Regions from separate parts of the Homo sapiens genome. Here region 2 is linked to region 1. Evidence: fine-mapped expression QTL. Tissue or cell type: whole blood. Region 1 holds a variant in brackets; the other region holds the start of a gene. All regions are shown on one strand. Distances are between the middles of the regions. Region 1 overlaps PTENP1-AS (PTENP1 antisense RNA). Region 2 holds the start of PRSS3 (serine protease 3).

Evidence for each region. PIP is the estimated chance that this variant, and not a neighbour inherited with it, causes the effect.
Region 2: PRSS3 starts here. The variant in region 1 is the best candidate, but not a certain one, in a credible set for the expression of PRSS3 in whole blood (TOPMed, PIP 0.67).

Annotation. Positions count from the first base shown.
Region 1 is chr9:33,682,695-33,685,617 of GRCh38, reverse strand. All of the region lies in intron 3 of PTENP1-AS (PTENP1 antisense RNA), which reads right to left. It also overlaps the pseudogene TRBVAOR9-2. Among named protein-coding and RNA genes, the nearest start is that of PTENP1-AS, 6.9 kb to the right of the region's middle. The variant G/A (reference allele first, on the strand shown) is at 1,180.
Region 2 is chr9:33,794,185-33,797,107 of GRCh38, reverse strand. It overlaps PRSS3 (serine protease 3), which reads right to left and starts at 1,547. Exons shown (of 5, transcript NM_002771.4): 1 at 1,495-1,547; 2 at 306-465. The coding sequence starts at 1,534. All of the region lies in intron 3 of UBE2R2-AS1 (UBE2R2 antisense RNA 1), which reads left to right. RefSeq lists an enhancer at 498-998.

The DNA of each region.
Region 1 (2,923 bases):
AGGCACGTGCTGCCACGCCTGGCTAATTTTTTGTATTTTTAGTAGAGATGGGGTTTCACTGTGTTAGCCAGGATGGTCTTGATCTCATGACCTCATGATCCGCCCCCCCTTGGCCTCCCAAAGTGTTGGGATTACAGATGGGAGCCACCACGCCTGGCCGGTCTATAGATTTTTTTTTAAGGTGCAGTTTTGTTGAGTTTTGTTATAAATATTAAGGTCATGTCATGAAAATAATTTAGAAATTTCCCCTACTTTTCTATACTTTGCAATGTTTTAGGTATTCTCAAAGTCCCTGATTTTAAAAGGTGTGGAAAAATCCCTGTAAGAAACTATATGGGACTGGCGCTTTTCTGTGAGGAAATTCTATTACAAATTTATTTATTTCTTTTGTAGTCATTGTTTTGTTTAGGCTTTTTATCCACATTAGGGTCAGTTTTGTTAAATTTATAATGTGAGCCATTTCATTTAGGCTTTTAGGTTGTTTGCAGAGAATTATACAAAATATTGTTTTTAAAAATAGACTTTATCATACTTCCCCTTGTCACTTCTGTTTTAGTATATTTGTCCTCTCTGTCTTTTGGCTGGCAAACAATGATCTCATTTGCTTATTTCTTAGTTCTATCATTACAAAATTTTCTACCTTATTAACTTCTGCTTTTATGTTGATCAATTCCATTTTTTTGCTTCTGTCCTGTTCAGGATAAAAGTCTGAAATAAGTCTTTGGGGCTAAAAATCAAGGTGTTGGCAGGTGGTGTTCCTTTTGTAGGCTTTATGGGAGAATCCATTTCTTTGCCTTTTCCAGCTTCTAGGTGCCATCTGCACTACTGGGCTCAGGGCCCTTCCTCCATCTTCAAAGTGTCTGTCATTCTGATCTCTACTTCTGTTGTCACATAGCCTTTTTCTGACTTGCATCCTCTTGCCTCACTCTTACTACACTCATCGGACATAGTACTAGATTCTGGGATACAAGGATGAGCAACAAAGTTTTCTGCTCCTATCGGGCTTATAATTCTGTATCCAATATATTGTACCAAGTCCTACATACTGGATTTACAAAGGTAAATGAACATATAGTCCAATCCCTCAAAAACCATTCTAGTCTAGGAAGAGTCAGACATGACCATAAATATCATAACATAGTGATAGAAGTTGAAGTTTCTTTAATTTGTTATAAACAC[G/A]TAAAGAAAGAAACCTCCATATCTGTCTGGGAAAAGAGAGAGGGCTTCACAGAGGTGGTGTGGTTTTGGTAAGATATTTTAGGAAAGTGTGTGACGATATTGGGCCCACTCAGCTAACCAAGGAAAACCTCCCCATTTCAAGATCCTTAACTTAATCACATCTGCAAAATCCTTTCAGCAATGTAAGCGAACATATTCATAATTTTCAAGGATTCAGATCTGATCATTTTGGGAGATTATTCTTCAGTCTACCACAATGTGAAAATCTCTAAATAATTGCAGCAATACTTTTGAGAGAGAAATGTTTAGATAGCTGAGATCATATCTTAGCTAGAGAGGCAAGAACTGATAAAACCCTGGTTTGTTCAATAAATATTTATAGAGCGCCTACTTTATTCAGAGCCTGTAATACTGTTGAAGATACAAAAATTAAACCTTGGACATGGTCTTGGCCTCATTGAGCATATTTTGTATTAATAATTTTTAAAACTATCATAATAAGTTAAGCAATGAAGTGTGTGATACTCTATGATTGTAGAAGCTCTGGATACCATGGGGTATTTACCACAGTTAAAGACTCAGGCCTAAACGGGAAGGATTAGTAGTACAGATAAATAGGGAGAGAAAGATTATTCTAAGTACTGTGAACAGCATATGTAAAGGCTCAGGAGTGAGTAAGAAAGTACATATGGAGCTAAGGGATTATGAATATTATTAGAGCATAAGTATGCAAAAAGTGGGTAAAGAGTAGGTGAATTTCACAAGACTGGATAGGTATGCAAGGGCCAAATCATGGAGGGTTTTAAGAATTTGTAGTTTGGAAGATTTTTATTTATTTATTTATTTTACAAAAAGAACTTACAGGCTAACATTTAGATATAAAGAAGACTGGTCATAACCCTAAAGTCAATGGAAAGGAAGTGTTTTCAGCTGCAGAGAATGAACTGAGTTAGAACAGAGAGTAAGACATCAGGTAGGTGGATATTTGGAAAGTGTTGAAGGAATTCAGGTGAAAGACAGTGGTTGCCTGAGCTAAGGCAGTATTGGTTGGGATAGAAAATAGTGGTTGAATTTGAGAGGTTTTAATAAACAGAAATGTTAAAGATGTGGTTATGGACCAATGTGGAAGAAGAGTGTGACAGCAGAGGGTGAAGATATTCTGGGGACTCTAGCTAAAGCAATTGAGTGAATGCTTATACCACTTAGGGATCCCAGTGAGGCAGAAGATGCATGTCACCACATACCTTAGGATGGGTTATTGTCTCAAGAAGCTAGAGAGCCAGGACTGGGACAAGGATGAGGAAAGGCATTGCAATGAATGTGTTTGGGACCTGAAGAGGGGATATCTTGTCCGAGGAGCAATAAACATGAAAGGGCAGAGTAAGGATCTTAATACATATAATTTAATCTCAGAAATAGAAAATGATGGAATTTGAACTGGCCATAGACTTAGGAACATTTTCTCGACTTCTGTACTCACTTGTACAGCACAAGGAGGTACAGGAAATATTGCCTTTTGAAGTCTGATGCAAGGTTGCTGCTCAGGTCAGACTTCACACACACAAAAAATCTTATGTTAAAGATTCTGGAAAGGTCTTTTCTCTCCTCCTGTGAAAGGTTCTTTCTCAGCATAGGGTGGCGCCTCTTGTGGTTGGACACTCCTCCCTTTGAGACTGCCATTTTGTGAGGTGAGCACATGCCTGTGCAGTGCTGTGGAGTGACGGCACAAGGACACAGGGACATC
Region 2 (2,923 bases), 110 kb before region 1:
GGCATCAGTATTTTCAAAAACTCTGTCTTAGGTCGCTTTAATGTGTAGCTAACCAGCAAAAGGTACTTGCCTGCTTTTGTCACTAGCTCTGACAACTCCAAGATTATCCCTGCCTGCTTTTATGACCACAACCCTTGCTGTTTCATGGATTGGCCTTGCTCTGGAGAGTCAGCTGCTGTCAACAAGTTTTCTTTTCCACCACCTCTCCCATCCGTCTTACCCAACCTCAGTACTTCCCTGGGCTGAAGCCAAGCTCTCCCAGGCAGCCTGGCTGGGAGCTTTGCAGTCAGGGGCCCCACACTTACGTCTTGTAGCAGTGAGCTGCTGATACCACCCACTGTTCGCTGATGAGGGAGCCACCGCAGAAGTGGGAGCCAGAATTCAGGGACACCTGGTAGGGGAGAGAATTCTCCTCACAGGTGTAGCCCCCAACAATCTTGTCATCATCGTCAAAGGGGACAGCAACTGGAGTGGAAATAGGAAGGGAGAAGGCAAGTCAGTAGCATGTTAGGGGTGGTGCTCCCAGCCTGCGGTTGCTTCCTGCCAATTAGAAATCCTTAACAAGCCCAGTGAGGCCAGGCAAGGGAGGGAGCGCTGCCACCCCTGGTGAGCATCACTGGATGTGGCTCCCAAGTCTCTGTGTCTGCAGGGCACGTAGCTAGGTACCCTGCAGGGGCTCAGATCTCTCCTGGGGACACCAGGCTGAGGATGCAAGGAATGTCCTCAAAATGCTTCCAGTGGGGTAGCAGTTGGTATGTTGTTGTCTCACCCACTGAGTGCTTCTCTCTTTTATTCATCACCTGTGTACTTGCCCTGGCTATTTGAGCCCTGGATTGTCAGGATACTTTGGCTAAGCTAGGAAAACCCCCTGTCTGGGTAGACCTGGCCATGACTAGCTTCCCCCATAGCTCAGATCTGTGCAGTGAGGGCAGAGTTGAGGGCAGCCCCAGGCTCACTTTGGCATAACAAAGGTAGACTTTGTTATTGGCCAATAGAAGAGCAATTCTTAACTTTGGCGGCATGCCTGGAAACGTTAAAAATCACCTGGGAAGCTTAAAAGCCCAGTACACAGGCTGCACCCCAGACAAATGAAGTTAGAACTTCTAGAGTTGAATCTCTGGCATGAGTAATTTTTGAACCTCCCCAGGTGCATTCGAGGTTAAGAGCAGCTATAGTGGTGCTATACTGGTGCTCTTGGAGCCAAGCCTGAAGCCTGCCACTTCATTTCATGGGCCAGCCCCACCTGGTCTCCCTTCCCAGCTTCTCCAACCACAGCTCGGATATGGATGAATGACAGTGGTGGGAGTGAAATGAGGGAAAAGGTGAAACAGGTGAGGCTTAAAGAGAGCCCAAGGAGGATGGGAAGGAGATATGTCAGATGGAGGAAATAGAATATCAGAGCGCAGTCAAAAGAGGAGAGGTGGCAAGAATGGCAGGGCATGTGTCTGCCAGGAAAGGGGGTGGGTGGGGCCTGAGGCAGGTCATGAAACTCGCCAGCAGCTCCCACAAAGGCAAGGATCAGGAATGGATTCATGGTGGTAGAGTGTGCCTGACTGGTGGTGGAAGGCCTGTCCTTATACCCTTCCAAGAATCAGGAGAGGAGGTGTCTGTGAGGTGAGGGTCACAGTTCTTCCCAGCACAAACACACCTGCAGCTTTCCCCTTGCCAGGGTCTTGCATCAGCTCGGCTACGTTTGGCCACTCTGTGGGTTTGTGATTCACAGGTGATAAGGAAACTTGCCTTCTGAGAGCAGAGAGGGAGACTGGCTATTTCCTGGAAGGATGCTGGGATGGGGAAGACAGGGGAAACCAATCCCCGGATCACACAGCTGGGCTTTCGTAGGCCGAGGAGATGAGGGTTAGAAGGAGGGAGAATGGCCTGGGTGTCTAGGAGTCCTTTTAACTATTGGGGATGTATTTAATAATGTACTTAAGGAAGGGCAAGCATTGGTAACAAGCTTGGCTTTTCAGTTTCCTGGAGCCCCCACGAGAGGAGGAAAGTCTTATCTAAGGCTCATTTTTGTGAATATGAATATGCTTCTTTGCAGTCACTGTGCACAAAGGTCAAATCCAAGACTTTGGGTATCCAGAATTCCAACACTAAGGGGTAAGGAGAAGGGAGACTTAGCATTCCATAGGATTCTGGGCTTCCAGATGGCTCTCCTTCCTACCAAGGCTTAAAAGGATGGGAAGTGTTTCAAAGAAGGAGGGGACACAGGTTAGGTAGGAGCTTACTCAGTGCATCTGGAGGATGGAAAACCAATGGCGCACTCCTCCCCTTCTTCAATGTGAAGCCACTTGTCTCTCTCATGTGCATCCTGTCATAGGTTCTTTTTATGCAGCCTCACGGTTGTCCTGGCAACCTGCACTTAGGGTGATGCAAACTGACTCACCTGCTCAGGGCTGACAGCCTGAACCAGAATGACATGCCCCTGATCAGATGTCAGAGTTTGGACCATGGTAAATCTGGGTTACCATCTGATCTGAGAATCAGCAGTAGGTAGAGATTTTAGCACATGGTAAATGGGTCACATATTGGGATCAATAAGAAGATGTGGAGGGGTGGGTCTAGAATTTTCTATTTTAGATGCAGTGAGATTATGCTGGGCTTAGTATCAAGTGAATCTTCCCAGAGAATATCCTGATTTGGGCCCTACCAAGGCTACTAAGACACAGTTGTGTAATTGACTGAGGCACAACCTGGCCAGAGTAGTGTGGAGATGGAGATGCTGTCTGTGATCAAGTCTAATGATGTAAGGAAAGGAGGAGCTTCCTTATGAGGGTGCTTTCCCTTCTCAGCAACTCTGAGCTCAGGTTGGTGATGGGCAGGAGTGAGCAGAGTTCAAGTTTAAATTCTTTGAAAAGTAAAAGAAGCAGAGATGTTCTGGAGATGGTGAACAAAATGAGAAAAGCTCAGAAACTTC